Linked DNA regions of Homo sapiens. The protein of the gene in region 1 purifies or fractionates together with the protein of each later gene. This does not show direct contact. Each region holds a gene or a part of one and is shown in the gene's direction. Other genes may lie near its edges.

The links.
Region 2: the proteins of DVL2 (region 1) and ATAD3A purify together in Homo sapiens (affinity purification with mass spectrometry, with the first as the bait; 2 studies listed by BioGRID). This does not show direct contact.
Region 3: the proteins of DVL2 (region 1) and VANGL1 purify together in Homo sapiens (affinity purification with mass spectrometry; 4 studies listed by BioGRID and IntAct, with this or other methods). This does not show direct contact.
Region 4: the proteins of DVL2 (region 1) and NEDD4L purify together in Homo sapiens (affinity purification with mass spectrometry; 4 studies listed by BioGRID and IntAct, with this or other methods). This does not show direct contact.
Region 5: the proteins of DVL2 (region 1) and AP2B1 purify together in Homo sapiens (affinity purification with mass spectrometry, with the first as the bait; 2 studies listed by BioGRID). This does not show direct contact.
Region 6: the proteins of DVL2 (region 1) and IQGAP1 purify together in Homo sapiens (affinity purification with western blotting; 3 studies listed by BioGRID, with this or other methods). This does not show direct contact.
Region 7: the proteins of DVL2 (region 1) and CSNK1D purify together in Homo sapiens (affinity purification with mass spectrometry; 3 studies listed by BioGRID and IntAct, with this or other methods). This does not show direct contact.

What each region holds. Positions count from the first base shown.
Region 1 is NC_000017.11:7,228,180-7,231,517, reverse strand, and holds part of DVL2 (segment polarity protein dishevelled homolog DVL-2), read left to right. Parts: intron 1-323; exon of another isoform or gene 324-637; intron 638-720; coding exon 721-790; intron 791-1,087; coding exon 1,088-1,233; intron 1,234-1,362; coding exon 1,363-1,472; intron 1,473-1,574; coding exon 1,575-1,710; intron 1,711-1,839; coding exon 1,840-1,930; exon of another isoform or gene 1,931-1,968; intron 1,969-2,070; coding exon 2,071-2,140; intron 2,141-2,243; coding exon 2,244-2,383; intron 2,384-2,472; coding exon 2,473-2,549; intron 2,550-3,338.
Region 2 is NC_000001.11:1,525,662-1,529,161, forward strand, and holds part of ATAD3A (ATPase family AAA domain-containing protein 3A), read left to right. Parts: intron 1-799; coding exon 800-870; intron 871-1,499; coding exon of another isoform or gene 1,500-1,614; exon of another isoform or gene 1,615-2,021; intron 2,022-2,033; coding exon 2,034-2,201; intron 2,202-3,500. UniProt on the Homo sapiens protein: Essential for mitochondrial network organization, mitochondrial metabolism and cell growth at organism and cellular level. May play an important role in mitochondrial protein synthesis. May also participate in mitochondrial DNA replication.
Region 3 is NC_000001.11:115,679,970-115,683,469, forward strand, and holds part of VANGL1 (vang-like protein 1), read left to right. Parts: intron 1-2,394; coding exon 2,395-2,528; intron 2,529-3,500.
Region 4 is NC_000018.10:58,399,633-58,402,039, forward strand, and holds the end of NEDD4L (E3 ubiquitin-protein ligase NEDD4-like), read left to right. Parts: 3' UTR 1-1,907; downstream 1,908-2,407. UniProt on the Homo sapiens protein: E3 ubiquitin-protein ligase that mediates the polyubiquitination of lysine and cysteine residues on target proteins and is thereby implicated in the regulation of various signaling pathways including autophagy, innate immunity or DNA repair.
Region 5 is NC_000017.11:35,628,822-35,632,321, forward strand, and holds part of AP2B1 (AP-2 complex subunit beta), read left to right. Parts: intron 1-3,500. UniProt on the Homo sapiens protein: Component of the adaptor protein complex 2 (AP-2). Adaptor protein complexes function in protein transport via transport vesicles in different membrane traffic pathways.
Region 6 is NC_000015.10:90,499,491-90,502,739, forward strand, and holds the end of IQGAP1 (ras GTPase-activating-like protein IQGAP1), read left to right. Parts: intron 1-504; coding exon 505-618; 3' UTR 619-2,749; downstream 2,750-3,249. UniProt on the Homo sapiens protein: Plays a crucial role in regulating the dynamics and assembly of the actin cytoskeleton.
Region 7 is NC_000017.11:82,270,901-82,275,026, reverse strand, and holds the start of CSNK1D (casein kinase I isoform delta), read left to right. Parts: upstream 1-1,326; 5' UTR 1,327-1,645; coding exon 1,646-1,721; intron 1,722-2,924; exon of another isoform or gene 2,925-4,126. UniProt on the Homo sapiens protein: Essential serine/threonine-protein kinase that regulates diverse cellular growth and survival processes including Wnt signaling, DNA repair and circadian rhythms. It can phosphorylate a large number of proteins.

The sequences.
Region 1 (3,338 bases):
GAAAGTATAAGAGTAGAGGCTTTGATGAGGACCAAAGCCTTTTTTGGAAGGTTTTTTTTTTTTTTTTTTTTGAGCCGCCCAGGCTGGAATGCAGTGGCGCGATCTCGACTTACTGCAACCACTGTCTCCCGGGTTCAAGCGACTCTCCCATCTCAGCCTCCTGAGTAGCTGGGATTATAGACACCCACCATCATGCCCGGCTAATTTTTGTATTTTAGTAGAGATGGGGTTTCACCATGCTGGCCAGGCTGGTCTTGAACTCCTGACCTCAGGTGATCCGCCCGCCTCAGCCTCCCAAAGTGCTGGGATTACAGGTGTGAGCCACCGTGCCTGACCTTTTTGGAAGGTTTGTAAGGAACAGGGGTGGGGTTGAGAGGAGGCCACCAGCCAGTCTCATTAGATAGGTATCTCAGGCAGCCGCATCAGCGTGCGGGATTGCTTTTGAAACTGGACTAAGAGGTTTGAGTCAGACTCAAGGAAGTCTTTGGAGCAGCACTGTGCCCCTGAGGGTGCGTTAGGGAGAGGAGAAATAAGGAAAGGGGATTGAGTTTGGAGATTTCTTAGGTGTCGGAGTGAGTTCTTTCAATGTAAGAGAAGACCTGAACAGGGCAGGAGAAAGTCAACATCCTGGAGCCAGGTGAAGATTGGGAGAAAGTTTGATGGGGGTCGGGGTGGGGATGGTTGGTCCAGCTCACTGACCTCTACCTTGTCGCTTGGCAGGGTGGTGAAGGAAGAAATTTCAGATGACAACGCCCGCCTCCCCTGCTTCAACGGAAGGGTGGTATCCTGGGTAAGAGGTTCTGACACCGAGGACCAGGCCCCCTCAGCATTGCCAAGCTCCCTCAAGCCTCAGTCTGTTTCTGTATCCTCCCCAGGCCGCGCGTTAGCAGCCCTGGCTCTTTACCTCCTGTCTGTTTGGAGAGCCGGCGAGAGGCCCTCAGCCTTCTCCTTCTGGAGTCTCTAATACTTGCTAGGTTTTTTTGCTCTTCTCCAGCTCTCTGAGACCCTTTCTCATTCTTTCACTTACTGCCACCTGTCACACCCTGACTCCCAAGTGAGCCACTGTTTATCATTTGCACCCTTCTAGCTGGTGTCCTCAGATAATCCCCAACCCGAGATGGCCCCTCCAGTCCATGAGCCTCGGGCAGAACTGGCGCCTCCAGCCCCACCTTTACCTCCTTTGCCACCCGAGAGGACCAGCGGCATTGGGGACTCAAGGCCTCCATCCTTCCAGTGAGTCCTTCAGATTCTTGACTGCAGGGGAGGGAGGTGAGGAGGGAACCCAGGCCTTTGGTAGGGGACGCCTAGGATCCGGAGCCCTGTTCTCCTGATGTGGGTTGGAAACCATCTCTGCCTGTCCAGCCCTAATGTGTCCAGCAGCCATGAGAATCTGGAGCCTGAGACAGAAACCGAGTCAGTAGTGTCACTGAGGCGGGAGCGGCCTCGCAGGAGAGACAGCAGTGAGCATGGCGGTGAGGGGCAGGCCTGGGGGCCGGGAAGGGCTGGGCCAGACCCCAGCCTTGGTGGGGTGAGCAGGGGGAAGCTTGGTTCTTGAGCTTCCTGTCCATATGTAGCTGGGGGCCACAGGACTGGTGGCCCCTCAAGGCTGGAGCGCCACCTGGCCGGATACGAGAGCTCCTCTACCCTCATGACCAGCGAGCTGGAGAGTACCAGCCTGGGGGACTCGGACGAGGAGGACACCATGAGCAGGTGTGGCTCCGCACAGCTCTCCCCAGCGCACCCAGCCCCGTCTCGTCTTCCAGTCAATCCTCTTGTTCTTTCTCTTGGCCCCATGACCACTTTGGCCTACGTTTGCTCTCCTTCCCAACCTCCTGGTAGGTTCAGCAGCTCCACGGAGCAGAGCAGTGCCTCCCGCCTCCTTAAGCGCCACCGGCGGCGAAGGAAGCAGAGGCCACCCCGCCTGGAGAGGGTGAGGGGTTCCTACAGGAAGGCTGGTGCTGGGAGAAGGTGGGGCATGGGCTTTGGTTTGGGCGGTGCCAGGACACCGGCAGCACCCCAGGGTTGACCCTGGGTTATTGAAGGGCACTCTGGCTCCTTTTCCCACCACAGACGTCATCCTTCAGCAGCGTCACAGATTCCACAATGTCTCTCAATATCATCACAGTCACGCTAAACATGGGTATGGGGAGAGCCTGTGGCTAGGGCGTGGGGAGGGCCTGGTCTCTAGGGTTCCGGGCGTCCTGTGGCAGGGGCTCCTCTTTTCACATGGCCTCTCTCCACAGAGAAGTACAACTTCCTGGGTATCTCCATTGTTGGCCAGAGCAATGAGCGGGGAGACGGAGGCATCTACATTGGCTCCATCATGAAGGGTGGGGCTGTGGCGGCCGACGGGCGCATTGAGCCAGGGGACATGCTTTTGCAGGTGTGCTGGGGTAGGGCCACTGAGCTGCCCTGCACGGGGGCCCTCAGCCTCTCCCACCGTGTCTCTGACCCACTTGCCGTCGCTTCCAGGTGAATGACATGAACTTTGAGAACATGAGCAACGATGACGCTGTGCGGGTGCTGAGGGACATTGTGCACAAGCCTGGGTGAGTTGCCAAGCAGGTTGCCGGTCCTCAGTCCTCTTTTTTTTTCTCTTTCATGTTTTGTTTTGGAATTTTAATAAGTACTAAGACAGCCGGGCGTGGTGGCTCGAGCCTGTAAACCCAGCACTTTGGGAGGCCCAGATGGGTGGATCACCTGAGGTGAGGAGTTCGAGACCAGCCTGACCAATGTGGTGAAACCGTGTCTCTACTAAAAATAGAAAAATTAAGTGGGCATGGTGGCACATGCCTGTAGTCCCAGCTAGTGAGGTGGCTGAGACAGGAGAATCACTTGAACCCTGGGGGGTGGAGGTTGCAGTGAAACGAGATCACGCCACTGCACTCCAGCCTGGGCGACAGAGCAAGACTCCGTCTCAAAAAAAAAAAAAAGTGCTAAGACATAACGTTCAAAGTACATGAAACAAATGCATGACATAGCAAATAATACTAGAGTAAATATCCATGTCACTGCCATCTAGATCATCAAATAGGAGATTGCTGATACCCTAGAACTTCCTCCTCAGATGTCCCTTCCTGCTCCCAAATGCCTCACTGCCCCAGGGGTAGTCACTCTCCTGACTTCTTTGGCCATCACCATAACAAAGAAAAGCTTTGCCTCACTGGATAGTTACCACCCTTGCACGTATCCTTGAACACTGCAGTTTCGTTTTACCTGTTTTTGGACTTTCTGTGAATGGAACTGTACAGCGTGTACTCTCTTGTCTCACTTGGCAGTATGTTTTTAAGAGTTTTCCATGTTGATGAGTCATCCACATTGTGGTGCCTTCCACCCTC
Region 2 (3,500 bases), on another chromosome or scaffold:
CCTTGGCCTCCCAAAGTGCTGGGATTACAGGCGTGAGCCACCACGCCCAGCCTTTTAATTATCATTCTAAGACAGGGTCTCTGTCGCCCAGGCTGGAGTGCAGGGGCGATCACAGCTCACTGTTGCCTCGACCTCTGGAGCTCAAGCAATCCTCCTGCCTCAGCCGCCTGAGTAGCTGGGACTGCAGGGGCACAGTGGAATACCTGTCTAATTTTTTTGTAATTTTAGTAGAGATGGAGTTTCCTCACGTTGCCCAGACTGGGCTCAAACTTCTGAGCTAAAGAGATTTGCCTCCCTTGACGTTCTGAAGTGCTGGGATTACAGATGTGAGCCCCCGTGCCCGGTCAGGCTTTCTTTTCTTTTTCTTTTTTTTTTTTTTAAGGCAGAATTTTACTCTGTTGCCCACGCTGGAGTGCAGCGGTGCAATTTCAGCTCACTACAACCTCTGCCTCCCAGGTTTCAGTGATTCTCGTGCCTCAGCCTCCCACGTAGCTGGGACTACAGGTGCGCCACCACGCCTGGCTAATTTTTGTATTTTTAGTAGAGACGGGGTCTCACCATGTTGGCCAGGATGGTCTCAAACTCCTTACCTCGTGTGATCTGCCCGCCTCAGCCTCCCAAAATCCAGGTTACATTCGTGAGCCACCGCCCCTGGCCCTGGTCAGGCTTTTGAGAGTAGATCCATGAAAGTGTCGCCATGTCCCTGCTCCCTGCAGGAGGGAGGCCTGTGGGACTTTCTGCTGTGGCTGTTTACAAGGCTTTGCTCCTGGTGCCTAAGGCTGGAACCTTCTCTCTGCAGGAGAAGATAAGCGAGGACCTCAGGGCCACACTGAACGCCTTCCTGTACCGCACGGGCCAGCACAGCAACAAGTGAGGGAGCCCCTCGGGTCCTGGGCCCCCGGGCAGGGCTGTGCAGCCGTCGCCCTTGGTTCCCACCGAGGGACCTGAGGGGCCCTGGCTCACAGTGCTGGGCAGCTGCCGTGGCCTCAACATGCCCACCTCGGATGTCCCCTGGGAACGGCCCAGCTCGGGACAGCACGGGGTGTCACTGAGGAACATGCGGGGGCCTCCCGGGCAGAGCTGGGGTCAGTCCTGTCCTCACGGCCCTGTGCGCCGCCGCCCCAGCTTGCAGGTCCCTCTGCCCCTAGGTTTCTGCGGTCCTGTGCCTGCAAGGGAGGTGGTCTCATCGTGTGAGGCTCTGCTGGGTCTCCCTTGGAGGGTGTGTGTGCCCTGGGGTGGGAGATGGAGACAAGTTTGCTCCCACGGGAAGTTGGACACCAGCAGGTCCTGTGTGTCGGGGCGGAACCTGGGACCTTGGTCCCCCGCCCGGATGCTGGCCAAGGGTGCACCCTCCAGGCTTGGGGCCCACCCGACTTTGTGTGGCCTCTGTGGGCTGCCGCCCAGAGGTCCCCCATAGGGTGACCGCCCCATGGCCAGGCTCCCTAGTCCCTCCCAAGTCCCCTAATTTTGAGTTTTCTTGGTCTCCTGGGCCCCTCCAGCCCCAGTCACGTGTCACACGGAGGATCAAGTCCTGCTGGTCGGCCGTGGCTGACTCCTCAGGCACGTTGGGCTCCCAGGTCAGCTGCTGCCGGTGGATGCTCCCTGGAGCCCTGACTCGGGTCCTTCCCAGAGAGGCAAGGCTGGGGCCCTGCTGAGCCTCCAGTGAACCCGGGCCCCTGAGGTCCTGCTCCTGGCACGTGTGGGCGACTTCTCGACATGGACTCCGGGTCCCGAATCCCTGCTCCCAGCACAGCAGGGGTCAGGCAGCAGGAGAGAGTGGTGTTCCCGGCACTGCCTATCAGGCTGGGCGAGGGTCAGCGGGAAAGCACTATATGGAGGGAGAACAGAGGCCCAGGAAGCCAGGCCGGGGGACAGCTGGGTGCAGTGGGGCAGGTGGCCGACCAGGGCTGTGCCCGTGTCCTCGTGTTTCCCGCCACTTTAGGTTCTCCCTGTGGGGGCTGAGGAGGCCCCGTTCCCCTTGGTGCAGCTCGGCCGGCAGCCCCAGCATCCTCATCCTCATCCCCGCCCCGCAGGTTCATGCTGGTCCTGGCCAGCAACCAACCAGAGCAGTTCGACTGGGCCATCAATGACCGCATCAATGAGATGGTCCACTTCGACCTGCCAGGGCAGGAGGAACGGGAGCGCCTGGTGAGAATGTATTTTGACAAGTATGTTCTTAAGCCGGCCACAGAAGGAAAGCAGTAAGTGTCCCGCCCCACCAGCCCCCGTCCAGGGGCCCTCGCTCAGGGTCCACCCCGACCCACAGTCCACCATCACTTACAAACCTTTAACATTCCTTTTTTTTTTTTTTTTTTGAGACAAAGTCTCATTCTTGTCGCCCAGGCTGGAGTGCAGTGACACGATCTCAGCTGACTGCAACCTCTGCCTCCCGGGTTCAAACAATCCTCTTGCCTCAGCCTCCTGAGTAGCTGAGATTACAGGCGCCCACCACCATGCCTGGCTAATTTTTTTTTAATTTTTAGTAGAAATGGGGTTTTACCATGTTGGCCAGGTTCGTCTCAAACTCCTGACCTCAAGTGATTCACTCTCCTCAGCCTCCCAAAGTGCAGGGATTACAGATGTGAGCCACCGCGCCCGGCGTCTTTTCCATTCCTCTTCACTACGAGGAGGGCTGTGAGGAAATCTTGTGCTCGGCCACCCCCAGGCCCTGGCTGTGAGGGGAGGTGATACGGAGTGTTGCTCTGAGACCCCCGTGTCGGGATTCGAAGGAGTCTCTCCTCATGAGACCCCCGTGTCGGGACTGGAGGGAGAGGCTCCTCATGGTCCACTGCTGGCTTCTGGCCTGGCCTCCCTCCAGCTGCCACACCCGGCCCTGGAGCCTCGTGGTGTGGGGCACGGCTCTTGCTGCTCACGTGCCTTGAGGCTGTCAGGCTCCCTGTTGCTGGCGGTGGGTGCAGCAGGCACGGTGGGCAGAGCCCTCCAGGTGATGAGGGGCCCTGGCACCACACACCGGCTGCCTCGGGAACACTCCAGATGAGCAGAGGCTGCTCCACTTCTTGGCGTCCCCCGGGCCCCGGTTTCTGAGTCCTTCTGTGCACCTGACCCAAATCCCTGCTGTCGCCAGTGATGACAAAAGAGAGCCTGGTTGCCGCTGCCGCCTGCTCCATGCCAGCCCAGCTTTCCGGGCCTCAGTTTCCCTATGCCCTCCCCTTCCCTGGGCTCCCCCACCCCCATGGCTGCTCGTAGCCCTGGCACCATGACTTGGCTTCTGTGGCCTCCAGGCAGACGCTTTTGCTAGAAGTCGGGGCTCCGCCACTGCCAGCATAAAGGCCACCTGCCCTGCGGGTGCTGAGTGAGCAGCTGTGGGCAGGGCTGGTGTGAGGAGTGGTTGGGGCCATCTCCAGGCCCTGCAGCCACTCCCTGCTCAGTCCGGGCCTGGCCTGCAGCAGGGAGGATGTGGAGCTGGGCTGTCAGAAGTAGAGAGCCCCTCCAAAGAGGATGTTTGGCGTGGGTGTCGGCCTCGCTGCCTGTCTTCCGGC
Region 3 (3,500 bases), on another chromosome or scaffold:
GGCACACACCAGGGAGTGTGTGTGTGTGTGTGTGTGTGTGTGTGTGTGTGTGTATGTGAGAGAGAGAGAGAGAGAGATCAGGGAGAGGGTTGCAATGAATCTCTGGATGGGGTAGGAATAAAGAAACACTTGCCCCTCTCTGGAGAATGCCATGGACAGGGGGCAAGGACGGAGTTGGAGCCACATTGACTTGGAGATTGCCAGGTGAGACCTTCAGGGCAAGCAGACTAGACTTCTGCAGGAAGAGCTCTCGTGACACACAAACCTCCACGGAAGTCCGCCTCCTCAGGAAGGCTGCACCCTGTCCCAGGCAGCCAGAAGCTCTTCTCCGTGGTTACTCAGCCCCACGTGTTCCAGCATGAGAACATACTCACTGTCATGGGGTTCATGCTCCAGGTACCAGCTAAGGTCTATCTTCATATTCCCAGGGCTTAGCAGACACAGGCACTCAAATATGGAATGACGAGTGAACAACTGAGTAACTGAATGGTCAGAATTTTCAAAATGCAGATTTGCTGTTAGGAGTCTTAGGTTTACTTCCATTATGCAAAGTTGGTCTCACCGGATTTCCCCTGATAGTGTTCCCCAGCCTCACATGACTGTACATTATCTAGGACGATATTAAGTACCAACTGAATGCGGGCACTGTTGGGGATATAACTCAGAAAGTTTTACCATGATTCTGCTCTTAAGCAGGTTAGCTGACTGACTTCCATATTCAATTCTGTTCAAGTCTTGAAGCAGAGCTCCAAGGGGAGCCAAATGGGTGGGTAGACAGAATTTCCAGTGGATAGTTTAGGAGCTCCCTTGTCTTGGTGTGAAGTGAGGATCCCTGAGCCACCTGGAGAGTGTTGGAACACAGTGTGGTCATCCAGGAATCAAAGGGAGCCCCATCCTGGTGCTCTGGCTACTGCAAATAATCCTTGTAAGCCGATCTGCTTAGCAGAGTACTAGAAAGGAAAATCCAAAGGGCAAGATAAAAATATATCTGTGGTATTTAACATGGTGGTGGTTGGAGATGTCAGCACGTACGCTGTTACACAGAGTCCGCATGTTACCGGGAAGCCCAACTTGGAGGTTTGTAAATCATATCAGAGTTCCAGCTCTCCTGTTTATTAAATGCATACTGTTGTGCAGGTCATAGATTTTTGAGCCTCAGTTTTCTTACCTCGAATGATTGTGAGGGTTAAATGAGAATCAGGTATGTGCAAACCCTTGCTGTATCATTGCAAGGTGTTCTTCAAAGTGGCAAGTGTTCTGCACCATAGACCAAGGGCATATTCTTTTGCTGTCTATACTCATTTCCAATTATAAGTACCCTCCCACATCCTCTCTCCCACTTGTTGATGGTACCTGTTCTTTGTTCCCCTGCTGCTCTCTGAGGACCAAGCAGGGGATAGTTGGAGACCTAGAATATCGGAACATAGATAGTCACCTTCATACCCCTCTGCCAAAGGCCAGAGATAGCACTCCAAGGGGCAGGGGGACCCAGAAAGATCAAGTGGTCTCAGCGGAGGCTCTCTTTTTTTTGTTGTTTTTTTTGTTTTTTTTTTTGAGACTGAATTTCACTCTTGTTGCCCAGGCTGGAGTGCAGTGGTGCAGTCTCGGCTCACTGCAACCTCCGCCTCCTGGGTTCAAGTGATTCTCCCGTTTCAGCCTCCCGAGTAGCTGGGATTACAGGTGCATGCCACTACACCCCGGTAATTTTTGTATTTTTAGTAGAGACGGGGTTTCATCATATTGGTTAGGCTGGTCTCAAACTCCTGACCTCAGGTGATCTGCCCACCTCAGCCTCCCAAAGTGCTGGGATTACAGGCGTGAGCCACCGCGCGTGGCCAAGGCCCTCTTAAGTACGCTCTGCCCTGGATGGCTGCAGTTGTTCTGGTCTGTATAAAACCTAAGTTCCAGGATTCCTTATACCCAGGGATACCAAGGCCTAGGGGACAAAACCCTGAATGAGGACCTGAGAAACCTGAATCTATACTTTGTTCTTTCACTCATTAGCTCTGCAACCATTAGTAAGTCTCTTGCCCTTTTGGGGGCATCCTCAGTTTCTTCTTTTGTAAACCGAGGAAAAATAGAAAAAGTTCTTGTGTGCCTAAAGCTAAATGTAAGTTATGAGTTACAACTTCTTCCTCTTTCAACAAAGGGCTAGATGGGATGTGGCTAATCACAGGTCCAGGAGAGGGCACAGAAGTCACCTGGCCATGGGGCTTAGTTTCAGCTTTAAGTTCTCATCCTGGAGACCAGAAGTGTGGTGGAACCCAGTGGACTTCTGTATGAGATTATCTTTGATGTTGTGTTCCTTTACCTGACTCCAAAAGAGGATTTTTCGTTTAGGACCTGCTTCTTCAGTGAAAAAGCTTTGCATTAATTTTGTTCTTTTTTTCTCAGTATCCAGCGAGCAGCATTGGTGGTCCTAGAAAATTACTACAAAGATTTCACCATCTATAACCCAAACCTCCTAACAGCCTCCAAATTCCGAGCAGCCAAGCATATGGCCGGGCTGAAAGTCTACAATGTAGATGGTATGTGCCTTGAAAGGGTGTCCGTGGTGCTCACAGGGGCACAGTTGGGTGACTATTTAAGATTCATGGTACGTTTGGTTCGACTTCTTCTCTGGGCCTACCTTTATGGTACATTCTTGTTTCAGAACAATTTCTCTTTTTTATGTAGGCAGACACATGTTTAGAGGAATGTTGATTTACCATCTACCTGTGTTGGAAGCCTGTTCATTTTGGGATTTTATGATTGAAAACAGCAGCGGTGTGTGTTTCCTGCCTTCTGCCAGGATCATCTTATATTGGAAGCTGTTAGGAAAGGGTTGCTTTTCAAAATTGGTGCACATTACCCACAAACTCAGAAAGCTACCTAAATCATTAAGACTAGAAATCTCAGTAGTCCAGGCATCTGGTGAGATACCTGCGGGCACTTCTTACTCGTGGCTAGGAGCCGGAGTTGAGTGGGTGGCAGGAGGCTGGAGGCCAGGCTGGGTAAGTCCAAGCTATGTTTCAGGGTATCACATGGTTAAGTGCAAGAAACAGGATGCGGTGTCATTTCTTCCTGGGTATGTTGGGTGAGGGCAAGAACTTTGCAAACCCTAGGAGAGGATTATATTTTCAACAAGTCAAGTGATTTATATACAGTGTCAGTTTTTGTTGGCAATATCCTTTCAGTTATTTGTTTGTTCATTTTTTTTTGGCTATATGAGGTGTGAGCTCCCTCACGAAGCCTGAAGGATTGATAAATTTCACCTGTGATCTAAAAACTTAGGAAAGATTCCCACTAGTGAAACCAAGTCACCAGCCAAGTAGATCATCCGTAAGAAAGCCTGAAATCTGCCTATGTTTCTGAAAAGTTAAGGTGGTCAGTGGTCAGGGGACAGGACAGGACTTCTGAGTCTGTATTCATTAACGGGTCACGTTGCACACCCTCAAGCATTGGTATTTCCTAGAAAAGTTGTGGCTGCCATGACATTCTAGCATAGCTTGCTTTCCATT
Region 4 (2,407 bases), on another chromosome or scaffold:
ACCCACCACCACGCCTGGCTAATTTTTGTATTTTTAGTAGAGATGGTTTCACCATGCTGGCCAGGCTGGTCTTGAACTCCTGACCTCAGGTGATCCTCCCGCCTCAGCCTTCCAAAGTGCTGGGATTACAAGCATGAGCCACCGCACCCGGCCTCACAGTGACAGATTCTGAGAAACAGCATGCAAAACATTTGAACCATTTTCTACATCTCCCATTGTTGCATAGAGAGTGTGCACCGCTGCTATCTTGCCAGATCCACACTGGTCCTCCCGAAAGCCAGGTTCATACACAGCAACTTTTTAATTATTCTAACAGTTACCCATTAACAGTCGACTCCTGTATTTCTGAGAGTCTTGTACTCACCTCTGAAATTTAAAAACGTATAAAGAGAGCCTGGGTTAATCAGTTCTGCAGCCCCTACGTGACACTGTGCTAGTTCTCCTTCTTCTGTCTCCTCCTTACCCTGGCCCTGCACCCCTGTACTTAAGAGGGAGAGGTGGGAGGTGCTGTCTGGTATCATTTGCTGCCTCGCCAGTAGAGGGTGCCGCTGTGCAGGGTAACTGCCCGCCTGCTCCCTTCCTGACCTCCCCTGACCCCGAAGATCACTACCTCTGTCATTCAGGCATTGGGGTACATCCTGATAAGTCGTGTCAGAACTGCCAATTTCAGGACTGAGATGTGTTTTTAAAAAACAAATCCTTATAAACTCCACTTTGTACTTTAGATTTTAAAACTGGGGAAAAATGTGATATTCTTTGGACCACTTTTTTAATTTATATAAGCCTTAATGAACAGTGTCTATACATTTGCATACACACACCCCCACCCCAGAGTGTTCTCAGTATGTCAGAGAAAGTGCCACAGCATTAGGACGGGAGCTTGGAGAACGTTTTCTAGAAAAGGGTTAGCTTCCTGTTGGCATGAAATTTTCCAAGCAAACCTCATTAAACATCTGTTGTTTGTTAAAGATGTTCCACTGAAAGCAACGCATGTTTCAAAGGCACGTCTTTCCGTTCGTTGGTTTTCTGTGTGTAAGGAGTAGCATTGCTGTTGGCGCCTAACCTCGCGTGCACTGCATTCTCAACCCCGTACCAGTGCATCATCAGAAGCCTTCCTCGTGACCATAACTCTGTGTCTGCAGATATGTGTTCCCGTGTAAGCCAGTTTTCCCCTTTTACTCAGACTGATTTCACCTAGATTGTCACGGTTTCCTTCATGTTAACTTTGCGTGACTTTGTTCTTCCTTTACTACTCTGTATGTAATATATATACATATATACGTACATATGCTGTCCAAATATATTTGTATATATTTGTATAGCATTTTTACACCTTTATTGAGTAATCTGGTTTCGAAAGGAGGTGAGAGTTTAGTCCCTTCTGCAGTTTTCTCCAAGCTGTGTCCTGTGAATTTCAACCCTTGGAGCCTAAGAAAACCCTAGGAAGATGATGTTAATTTGCTGTCATTTCCTAATTCAGGATCTATCATCAAATGAAACATGAAAAAAACAGTGACTTTTAAGGTGAAAAGAGTTTCAAGCATTCCAAATAAATTATCAATGTTTCATAACTTTTTATTATAAACCCACCTCCTAATAGGAAGCCAAGTACTATTTGATACAGTGGTAAAAACCAAACTACCTTGAATTTTTTTAAGGCAACTTATGAATAATGCTCATTTTCACAGTCAGAATAGCTTTAAAATATGGTTGAATTTGATACACACAGGAAGTTTTCTTGAAGAACAATCCTTTCGCTTTTCTTTTTTCTTGAGAGATCTAAAGAGAAACTGTAGATTGTTTTCCTGACAGCAAAAGACTAATGTGACAAAATGAAGTCATTGTAAAGAAGCGATGCAACTTGTCAAATATTTAATAAAGAATTATGGAAGCTGGAACATTTTCTACATCAAGTGTTATGGGTTGTTTGATTTAAAGCTTCTTTGTGAATGCACCATCTTAATTGTTGTCAGAGGGGTTTAAATGCCTGCAGATTTATAGTATGTTCATTTCCTTCATCTCCCTAAAAGCGCCGCACTTTTAAAAACATTAAAGTCTGGCAGGGCACAGTGGCTCACGCCTGTAATCCCAGCACTTTGGGAGGCTGAGGTGGGCAGATCACTGAGGTTAGGCATTCAAGACCAGCCTGACCAACATGGTGAAACCCCATCTCTACTAAAAATACAAAAAATATATATATATATTAGCCAGACGTGGTGGCGCATGCCTGTAATGCCAGCTACTCAGGAGGCTGAGGCAGGAGAATCGCTTGAACCCGGGAGGCAGAGGTTTCAGTGAGCTGAGATTGTGCCATTGCATGCACTCCAGCCTGGGTGACAGAGCGAGATTCCGTTTCAAAAAAAAAAAAAAAGTCTGCCCAAAACACATGGCTTAAGCCTACTAAAAG
Region 5 (3,500 bases), about 28 Mb from region 1:
GTTTCTTATTCTATCAACTGTTGGCTTGCAAAATTTATGCATATTACGACTGTGTAAATATTTAGGGCCAATGTAATGCAAATGATTACATTTTCTTTCTTATAGCATCTTTTTTTTTTCTGGAGGTTTTTTGTTTTGTTTTGATTTTTGAGACAGAGTCTCTGTTGCCCAGGCTGGAGTGCAGTGGTATGATCTCGGCTCACTGCAACCTCTGCCTCCCGGGCTCAAGCGACTCTTATGCCTCAGCCTCCTGAGTAGCTGGGATTACAGGCATACGCTACCACACCTAGCTAATTTTTGTATTTTTAGTAGAGACGAGGTTCGCCATGTTGGCTGGGCTGGTCTTGAACTCCTAGCCTCAAGTGATCCGCCTGCCTCAGCCTCCCAAAGTGTTGAGATTATAGGTGTGAGTTACCACACCTGGCCCTGGAGTTTCTTTAATTGCCTCTTTTTTTCTTGCATGTGTGTCTTTATCATGCCCCTATATTATTCCTGTTCCTTAAGCATAATATCAAATCTGTAAACTTTCTTTTGTCTTAGACCCTTCTCTTTTGCAGTCCTCTGTCTTCTTGTTTTTTCTACTCTGACTGATTGCTTTTCTGGCTTCTGCACATCATTCCATACAGCCTCCCTATTTCTTGTTATTGGTATATTTTTCCTTGCATTGCTCTTTTTGTGGTTGCAATAGCTTCTTGAATCTCTGAGGATATGAATGATTCGTTTTTTTGTTTCTGCACTTTGAATTTAATTATCGGATATTTTTTGGTGATGATTGCATATCTATGCATATAATTTTTTAATTGAGATGTATACCATGCATACAGTAAAGTGCAGCTCGTTTCTGTTTAAGAAAGAGGTAACAGAAAAGTTGATTAGGACTTCTGTATACATAGGCAAGGCTGTCGACTATCAGGTTTCTGCTTTAGGGAAGGGGGTTTATCTTTACATGGAAGACCTCTTGAAGAGCCTATCTGGTCTTAGAGGGCAGATTGGTTTCTAGCTTGGCTGCAGCCTTCCGGTAAGTATTATGGGCTGTAATTTACATTGCCCTGCTTCATCAGTCAGCAGTCCTCCATTTGTTTGTCCTCATTCAGAAATTTGTTGAAATTAACAGTGGCTTCTGTTCACTGTTTTTATGGGTTCAGAGCCCCATGTTTGTTCTTGCTACTTGATTATATGCAGTTCTGCCTAGAGTCAGAGGATTGGACCATATGATTTCTCAGGAATACGAAAACAATTTGTACAGTATGACCAGTACTTTACCGGAACAAAAGGAGGCAGATGTGTGTCAGAGAATCTTCTATGAAATACCTGTTCCTAATTGGCCTTCCTTGTTTTTTTTCAGTTTAGTGCTGCTTCATGTAGTTTCTGTTGATAAATAATTTAATAGAAAGGCTGTTAACAGCAAGAAGTTAGCTAGTCCTGGGTTCTATTCCTGGTTCTGCTAGCTCACTTGATTCAGATATTTAATGTTTCTCTTCATTGGAGAAATGTTAAAGTCTTTTTGTTGGATCTTGATATGTTAACATTGTTTTTATTACCACTGTCACCACACGTCACAACTTGTTTTTCTTTTCTTTTTACGTTAACATATCTTACTAGCCGTCTACTTAGTATTAATGTAGATAATTTTCAGAGAGATTTTGGTAGCATAAGAGTAAGGTGGTTTTGTTCTCTTCACTAGTGTACATAGCCATCTTTTCCACAAGACTGCCATTGTCTTATGACCTACCTCTCTGACAAAGCTGTAAACAGTAATACAAAAATTATATCTTATTCTGAAGTTCAGAGACTTTCTAGCCCTGGAATTACTAGAAAGTGTTCTCAAAGCATCTAGATTCCTCAAGGCTGTTAGTCATCTATTGTGACTAATGGAAAGGTTCTCCATAATCTTCTGGAAAAGACTTCTGATGGCTTTCACTTCTTCCTTTGACTAAGCGTGCTTTGATGGGAGTATGACAGGATGTGAGGAATGAACTTTCCCAGGAAACTTAAGGTCACCCTTCAGGAATCCTGTCTTATCTAGTGCTGTCATTTCAGATTACCCAGATTTACCTTAGAACTTTTCCTGTAACTGTTTCAGCCATGAAGGTTTTCAGTTTGACAGAGTTGCCAAGCCAAACAGTTAATTGGACCAGGAGAGGCAATGATTGCCTGTTTGCACTAACTCATCCATGGGACAGGAATCAGCAGCATAAGAATTGTAATGAACTTTCTGTATAGCTTTGGGAAGCAACAAGCTGTTGAGCAAATAAATAGCACTGAAAAAGCAATCCTATGGTGCTATTTTTTTGTTCAATAACTTTTGCCTATTTCTTTCAGGAGTAAACAAACTCCTGGTCCTTTTCAGTTTTAAAAAGGAGAGAGGTTGAGGCACTAGGTTAAGACCAGGAGTTCTTCACTTCCTGGTCTTCTGGTTATTTTCTGTTTACTATTTCTGATTTTTATATATTAGAATAAAATATTGGTTTGTGTGTCATTTCTTAAAGACAAAAAACATATTTTTCCTATTAGGAAAACCATATTTGTTTACTATATATAATTATAGAACAAGTTAAACAAAAAATGGGGTACCCCGCTTTCCCCATCTTCTGTTTCACTCTCTCAGATATGCAGTGGACATAATCTGGTAGACATCATTTTATATCATTGTTTATATAGTGTTCTATACAAAGATGTATTTTTTTATAAAAATGAAATCATTCCACAAATGCTATTTATTTACTTTGTTTTATCCTCTACTTTTTTTTTTCTTACTAGTAATATCATGGACATTGATCCACATTATAAAGAAAAATTTATGTCATCTTTAGTTTCTGGTTTATAGACATAACGTGATTACTTGATAACTTACTGAATTTGTAACTTTATCCCTTATTATAGGACCTTAAAGTTGTTTCTACTCTTTTTCCAAATGGTGGTATAAGGAGTATCCTTGCAACTAAATCTTTGAACTCTAGTTGAAGTGAACATTTTTTCATAACAGTTATGCTTATTAGCCATTTGGGAATTGCTCACTCATGTCCTCTGCACCTTTTTCCAATATGTTATCTTTTCCACATTGTTGTTTTAAAGTCTTTTGTAATTGAGATGTTAACCCTTCTTTTAGTTAGCATTTATTTTCCTAGTTTGTTGTCCTTTAGATTTCTTCTGCTTTCTTGATGCACAGAAGTTTAGATTTTTGTATCAGCTTTTCTCAGTCAGTGTTTTTCCTCAGTGGCACACTTAGAAAATTGTGCTTCACCTAAAGTTATATAAAATTCACTATTTTTTTTTTTTTTACTTCTATGGCAATGATTTTGTTTTATTTGTTTTTTGGGGGGTGGTGGGGAAATGGAGTCTTGACTTGTCGCCCAGGCTGGAGTGCAAATGGCGCAATCTCAGCTCACTGCAACCTCTGCCTCCTGGGTTCAAGTGATTCTCCTGCCTCAGCCTCCAGAGTAGCTGGGATTACAGACATGCACCACCATGCCCGGCTAATTTTTGTATTTTTAGTAGAA
Region 6 (3,249 bases), on another chromosome or scaffold:
AATAGAAATTAAGAATCTATCAGATAGTATTAAGGTGACATTACTAGCCTTATCTCATTTCCCCGTGCTTAGTATATTTCATCATAGGTTTAAATGCTTCACCTTTTCCAGATTTATTAAAACTAGTGACCCATAACATGGATGAAATGGGAAAATGTCATTGTGACTTCTGAAATAAAAAGCTTAGATGTGTGTGGCAATTGAACATGTTTCTTTTTCTTTCCATGTATGATGAATTTTGATATGAACAACATGACTTCCTAACTCCAAATCAACCAGAAGCCTCCCTTGGCCAATGTGCCCTATTGCTCCAGCTCTCAGGCTGGTTGTGCAGTGGGTAGTTGCCTAGCGTGGAACTTTTCTTTCGCCCCAGTTCACATCTGGCACACAAGGCAGGCCTCAGTCCATCTGGATCCCTCCCTACATTGTGTCCTTTTTCCTTGTTCCACAGACTTGATTAACTGTCAAAATGTTTTGTTTTGTTTTGTTTTGTTTTGTTAATAGGACCTGCTGCAGCTACAGTATGAAGGAGTTGCAGTCATGAAATTATTTGATAGAGCTAAAGTAAATGTCAACCTCCTGATCTTCCTTCTCAACAAAAAGTTCTACGGGAAGTAATTGATCGTTTGCTGCCAGCCCAGAAGGATGAAGGAAAGAAGCACCTCACAGCTCCTTTCTAGGTCCTTCTTTCCTCATTGGAAGCAAAGACCTAGCCAACAACAGCACCTCAATCTGATACACTCCCGATGCCACATTTTTAACTCCTCTCGCTCTGATGGGACATTTGTTACCCTTTTTTCATAGTGAAATTGTGTTTCAGGCTTAGTCTGACCTTTCTGGTTTCTTCATTTTCTTCCATTACTTAGGAAAGAGTGGAAACTCCACTAAAATTTCTCTGTGTTGTTACAGTCTTAGAGGTTGCAGTACTATATTGTAAGCTTTGGTGTTTGTTTAATTAGCAATAGGGATGGTAGGATTCAAATGTGTGTCATTTAGAAGTGGAAGCTATTAGCACCAATGACATAAATACATACAAGACACACAACTAAAATGTCATGTTATTAACAGTTATTAGGTTGTCATTTAAAAATAAAGTTCCTTTATATTTCTGTCCCATCAGGAAAACTGAAGGATATGGGGAATCATTGGTTATCTTCCATTGTGTTTTTCTTTATGGACAGGAGCTAATGGAAGTGACAGTCATGTTCAAAGGAAGCATTTCTAGAAAAAAGGAGATAATGTTTTTAAATTTCATTATCAAACTTGGGCAATTCTGTTTGTGTAACTCCCCGACTAGTGGATGGGAGAGTCCCATTGCTAAAATTCAGCTACTCAGATAAATTCAGAATGGGTCAAGGCACCTGCCTGTTTTTGTTGGTGCACAGAGATTGACTTGATTCAGAGAGACAATTCACTCCATCCCTATGGCAGAGGAATGGGTTAGCCCTAATGTAGAATGTCATTGTTTTTAAAACTGTTTTATATCTTAAGAGTGCCTTATTAAAGTATAGATGTATGTCTTAAAATGTGGGTGATAGGAATTTTAAAGATTTATATAATGCATCAAAAGCCTTAGAATAAGAAAAGCTTTTTTTAAATTGCTTTATCTGTATATCTGAACTCTTGAAACTTATAGCTAAAACACTAGGATTTATCTGCAGTGTTCAGGGAGATAATTCTGCCTTTAATTGTCTAAAACAAAAACAAAACCAGCCAACCTATGTTACACGTGAGATTAAAACCAATTTTTTCCCCATTTTTTCTCCTTTTTTCTCTTGCTGCCCACATTGTGCCTTTATTTTATGAGCCCCAGTTTTCTGGGCTTAGTTTAAAAAAAAAATCAAGTCTAAACATTGCATTTAGAAAGCTTTTGTTCTTGGATAAAAAGTCATACACTTTAAAAAAAAAAAAAACTTTTTCCAGGAAAATATATTGAAATCATGCTGCTGAGCCTCTATTTTCTTTCTTTGATGTTTTGATTCAGTATTCTTTTATCATAAATTTTTAGCATTTAAAAATTCACTGATGTACATTAAGCCAATAAACTGCTTTAATGAATAACAAACTATGTAGTGTGTCCCTATTATAAATGCATTGGAGAAGTATTTTTATGAGACTCTTTACTCAGGTGCATGGTTACAGCCCACAGGGAGGCATGGAGTGCCATGGAAGGATTCGCCACTACCCAGACCTTGTTTTTTGTTGTATTTTGGAAGACAGGTTTTTTAAAGAAACATTTTCCTCAGATTAAAAGATGATGCTATTACAACTAGCATTGCCTCAAAAACTGGGACCAACCAAAGTGTGTCAACCCTGTTTCCTTAAAAGAGGCTATGAATCCCAAAGGCCACATCCAAGACAGGCAATAATGAGCAGAGTTTACAGCTCCTTTAATAAAATGTGTCAGTAATTTTAAGGTTTATAGTTCCCTCAACACAATTGCTAATGCAGAATAGTGTAAAATGCGCTTCAAGAATGTTGATGATGATGATATAGAATTGTGGCTTTAGTAGCACAGAGGATGCCCCAACAAACTCATGGCGTTGAAACCACACAGTTCTCATTACTGTTATTTATTAGCTGTAGCATTCTCTGTCTCCTCTCTCTCCTCCTTTGACCTTCTCCTCGACCAGCCATCATGACATTTACCATGAATTTACTTCCTCCCAAGAGTTTGGACTGCCCGTCAGATTGTTGCTGCACATAGTTGCCTTTGTATCTCTGTATGAAATAAAAGGTCATTTGTTCATGTTTGTGTTTTTCTCAGTTTCATTGTTAACAGTTCCTGCTAAACACCTTGACTAGAGTGAGATGTATCAGTTAAAATCACAACAGCAGACAACCCCTTCCTTTTAAAGGAGAAAACGTAAGTCCACCATCAGATCATTGAATGTCTCAAAGTGACTTTTAATGTGTGAACGTGTGACTTTAGCCTTTTTAATGAATATGCTTAAGTTATCTTCACCATAAAAAGAAGGGTGTTGCGGGAAGCAAACATTATATGTCACTTAATTCTGATTGACGAACGGTGGAAAGTTTAAAATTGCAACAGCATTTAACCTTTTTTGACCAGCATACTGTTGTTGAGCACATAGACTGTGCCCCTTAGGGGGTTCCTATGTCACTTGGAAGTCACCAGAAAAGACTAGGGGATGTTGAATGTGGAAAAAGTAAATCACAGCAGTAAAAAAAGAAGAAAAGGGGCTGGCGTAGTGGCTCACACCTGTAATCCCAACACTTTAGGAGGCC
Region 7 (4,126 bases), about 75 Mb from region 1:
GAAATGTTGGGGCCATCAGAGCCCAGGAGGACCAGCCGAGGGAGGAGCAGCTGACAGGTGGGCAGGTGCCCCTAGTCAGGGACAGCAGGACTCCCCAGGAAGAAGGATCACAGCCACCCGTGGGAGAGCTGGACTCTGTTCATCAACAGAAAAGCCGTGAGCGATTCCGCCAACAAGGTCAGTTTTACTAGTCTGGCAGCCCCCCACCCCCGGCTTCTGTAACTCAGAAACTGGGCAGTTCCGACTGCCCATCCCTCATTAGTGACTGATGGTGGTCTGGCCGGCGGCATCTCCTGTCTCCAGGCCCTGCTATGTAATTTCGGGAATGGACGCCCGTCTCCCCGACCTGACCTCCAGCTGTTTGGAGCTGAGGGGTGGAGAGGAAAGACTGGGGGGTGGAGAAAGGCGAGCACCACTGTGGGGCCTGTGGGGGCTGCTTTCCTCTTCTGCAGTGACCTGGACGGGCTGAGGCTGCTGTCTCACTCACACGGCGGTGCCCACACCACAGCCCTGGTATGCTAATGCGTCAAAACACACCTTCACCTGTTTCACATTCTTGAGTTTCAGCGAGGATGCGACAGGTCTCGAGACACATGGACGTGGGACCATGGGGACGGGTTCTTCAAGGTCCCCATGCACCTGCAGCCTGGGGGGGCTTGTCTGAAGGGCTTTCTTCCCAGTGATGGGAATCAAAGGCCCCGATCTTTGAAGCTGGCCATCAGCCTGAACGTCCACTCCTTGTTTCCTTTGCAAGGAGGAACATTCAGATCCAACACAGATAAGAATGTTGACTCCGTCTCCAGGCCGCAGGGACTGGAGGGAGGCAGGTGGTCTGGCCTCATTTTGTGAAAGGTGGTGGCTTTGTCCTCAATCTTCAGGCTGGACATCAGGACCTCCCAGGGCGCGGGCCTGCTCTGTCTCTGGCCTTAGGTGTCAGGAGGTAAGGCCGCAGACGCTGACGTACTGGGATGCCCCAAGCCCGGGAACTGGCAGCCCAGTGAGGGGGTCTCACCTGTGTCCCCTGAGCCTGGCCTGTCACTCTGTCCACGCCTCAGCTACCTGTCCCCTCCTGCAAAGGGCACCGCCTGTCGCGAGGAACTCACCTGGCTTCCTCGACATCTCGGGGGACACACGAAAAGCCCCCGCGAGAGCAGCAGGAGCCTGCACGTGGAAGGGGCTGGCGGCCCGAGGTCCCGGGGTAACAGGAGGGCAGAGGGGCTGGGCACGGCGCAGGGTCGGGAGGAGGCCTGGAGCGCTCGCCCCGCCCGGCCCCGCCCCTGGAGCGCCGCGGCCCCGCCCCGCCGGGTTGCTAGGGGAAGTGACGTCACAGCGCGATGGCGGCGGCTCCTTTAGGCAGCTGAAAGGGGATTTAGGCCCGGAAGATCCGAGTCCATCCGCGGCGGGGAGAGGGCAAGCGGGACCGGTAGGGGCCGGAGCAGCGGCGGCGGCGCTCGGACTGTCCCATCCGCCCCGTATTGAGGCGCTGGGAGCGGCGGGGCGACAGGAAAGCGATGGTGAAAGCGGGGCCGTGAGGGGGGCGGAGCCGGGAGCCGGACCCGCAGTAGCGGCAGCAGCGGCGCCGCCTCCCAGAGTTCAGACCCAGGAAGCGGCCGGGAGGGCAGGAGCGAATCGGGCCGCCGCCGCCATGGAGCTGAGAGTCGGGAACAGGTACCGGCTGGGCCGGAAGATCGGCAGCGGCTCCTTCGGAGACATCTATCTCGGTGAGGCCCCGCCGCCCCCGCCCGCCGCCCGAAGACCCGGGCCCTGCGGCTGCCAAGACCAAGCGCGATCGCGGAAGGAAGTGGTGGCCCCCGCGGGGTCTCCGCGCAAGTCCCGGCACCGCCGGATCGTGGCCAGAACCCAACGGCCACTAGGCTAGCGCGGCCAGGGGTGGGGAGGGCAGTGGGGAGCGGACGTGGGGGAGGGGCAGGACCAGGTCGGGGGAGCAGGGTCTGGAGAGGGGAGGGTTGGGGAAGGAGGGGATAGGGGAGCTGACCCGGGGTGGGGCATGGTCTCTGGGGAGCCGACCTGGGTAGGGGCAGGGTCGTGGGGAGCGGACTCGGGAAGGGCTGGGTGGGGCGTGGGGAGGCGGGCCTGGGGGAGGGGCAGGGCGGGGGTGGGGGCAGCGGGCCGTGGGAGGGGAGGGGGTAGGGCTGGGGCCGCGAAGCGGGCGTCGGCTTCCTCTACGCCTAAGGTCACCGCAGTAAACAAAGGCCACGCTCTTTCTTCCGCAGCCCGGTCCGGGGCTGTCTGGCTGCCCCCTCAGAGGCTGCCCCGGTGTCTTGCATTCGTGGGGGAAAATGTCAGAAAGACCCAAATGCCGTGTGGAGCGGGGGAGTGGCCCGGCTAGGAGTGGGGCTTGCCCTCCCGCTGGGGGTTCTCTCTGAACGGTTCCCCTTGGCCTTGGAGCGGTGACTGAGTGCAAATGAGCAAGGGTTAAGTTTAGGTGAATGTAGAGAAAGTCACACAGGATTAAGATGCTGGCAAGATGAGAGGCAGATGAGGTAGTTGTACTCATGAGGTGTCCTTTAGACTGTAACAGTCTCAAGGTAGATTTCAAAAACAATGGGATTAGAAGGTTTTGGGTTGTGTCATATTTACAATGGAAAAATATGCACGTGAACACAAGTGTGATGAAAGGTTGGCTTAAATCTTCAAGTTTGTAATTTTTTTTTTTTTCCTGAGACGGAGTTTCGCTCTTGTTGCCCAGGTTGGAGTGCAATGGCGTGATCTCGGCTCACCGCAACCTCTGCCTCCCAGGTTCAAGCGATTCTCCTGCCTCAGCCTCCCGAAAAGCTGGGATCACAGGCGTGCGCCACCACGCCTGGCTAATTTCGTATTTTTAGTAGAGACGGGGTTTCTTCATGTTGGTCAAGGCTGGTCTCGAACTCCGGACCTCAAGTGATCCGCCCAGTTCGGCCTCCCGAAGTGCTGGGAAGCCACCGCGCCTGGCCCAAGTTTGTAATTTTAAAGTAACTTAATTTTCCGCACTTGTTAGTGGGATTGTGCAATGCACGAGTTATTCCAAGATCCCCTGAATTTGAGGATATGTAGCCTGAGGCGGTGTGCCTGCAGAGGGGCTGCTGCAGACCTTTGAGGGGAGCTGTTTTCTGTTCCAGCAGCCCTAGCTTTGGGGTGTGTTTTAACTGGGGCACCTGTCAGCTAGGGTCAGGAATCCCCTGGGATGTCAGTAATGCCTCTGGTCATACCTTTTAGATGAAGCCACATGTGGACAGTCTCCAGTTCTCACACCCTTCCCACTTGTCACCAGAGAGAGGACTCAGGACCCGGTGGGCTGACAGCGTTAGGACGAATCCACACATATGGGTGGCTCATACTTTCGGTGCCTGGTTAACCTGCCAGGTGACCCTGTCACATGCCATATTGTTGCTTTTGAACCTGTACATATGCCTTAGTGGACTGCTGAGTAAGCAGGCTTTAGACATTTGGGTTTGGCTATTAAACATTTATACCAGGTGGTCAGCTGGATGTGTTCTTGGCAGTGTTTGGGAAGTCAGAGTGCTTGGTCAATGGAAGTCGTTTGGCTTATTTATAGAACAATGGATTTTGGCGAAAGTTTTAACCCCAGGATCTGAGTTACACTGCAAAGCCAGTCCATTAGCCACCTTTAGGCAGGCATCAAAAAGGAGTATTTTGGGCCGGGTGTGGTGGCTCACGCCTGTAATCCCAGCACTTTGGGAAGCTGAGGTGGGCGGGTCGCTTGAGGTCAGGAGACCAGCCTGGCCAAAGTGGCGAAACCCCATCTCTACTAAAAATACAAAAATTGGCCAGGCGTGGTGGTGGCTGCCTGTAATTCCAGCTACTTGGGAGGCTGAGGCACGAGAATTGCTTGAACCTGGGAGGCGGAGGTTGCAGTGAGCCAAGATCACACCACTGCACTGCAGCCTGGGCGATGGAGTGAGACTCTGTCTCAAAAAATAAATAAATAAGAAGTACTTTGAAACTATCTGTTCTCTGATCTGAGACCTTGTCAAACAACTTTGTGCTTTCCAAAGATAGATTAAGACAAATTTTGGTGTGGTTGTCACCAAGTAATTCCAGAGGTGGAGGGTGGAAGGCTGTCTCCTCACTCAGCATTCTACCCTCCAGGCCTCACCTCGCGCTG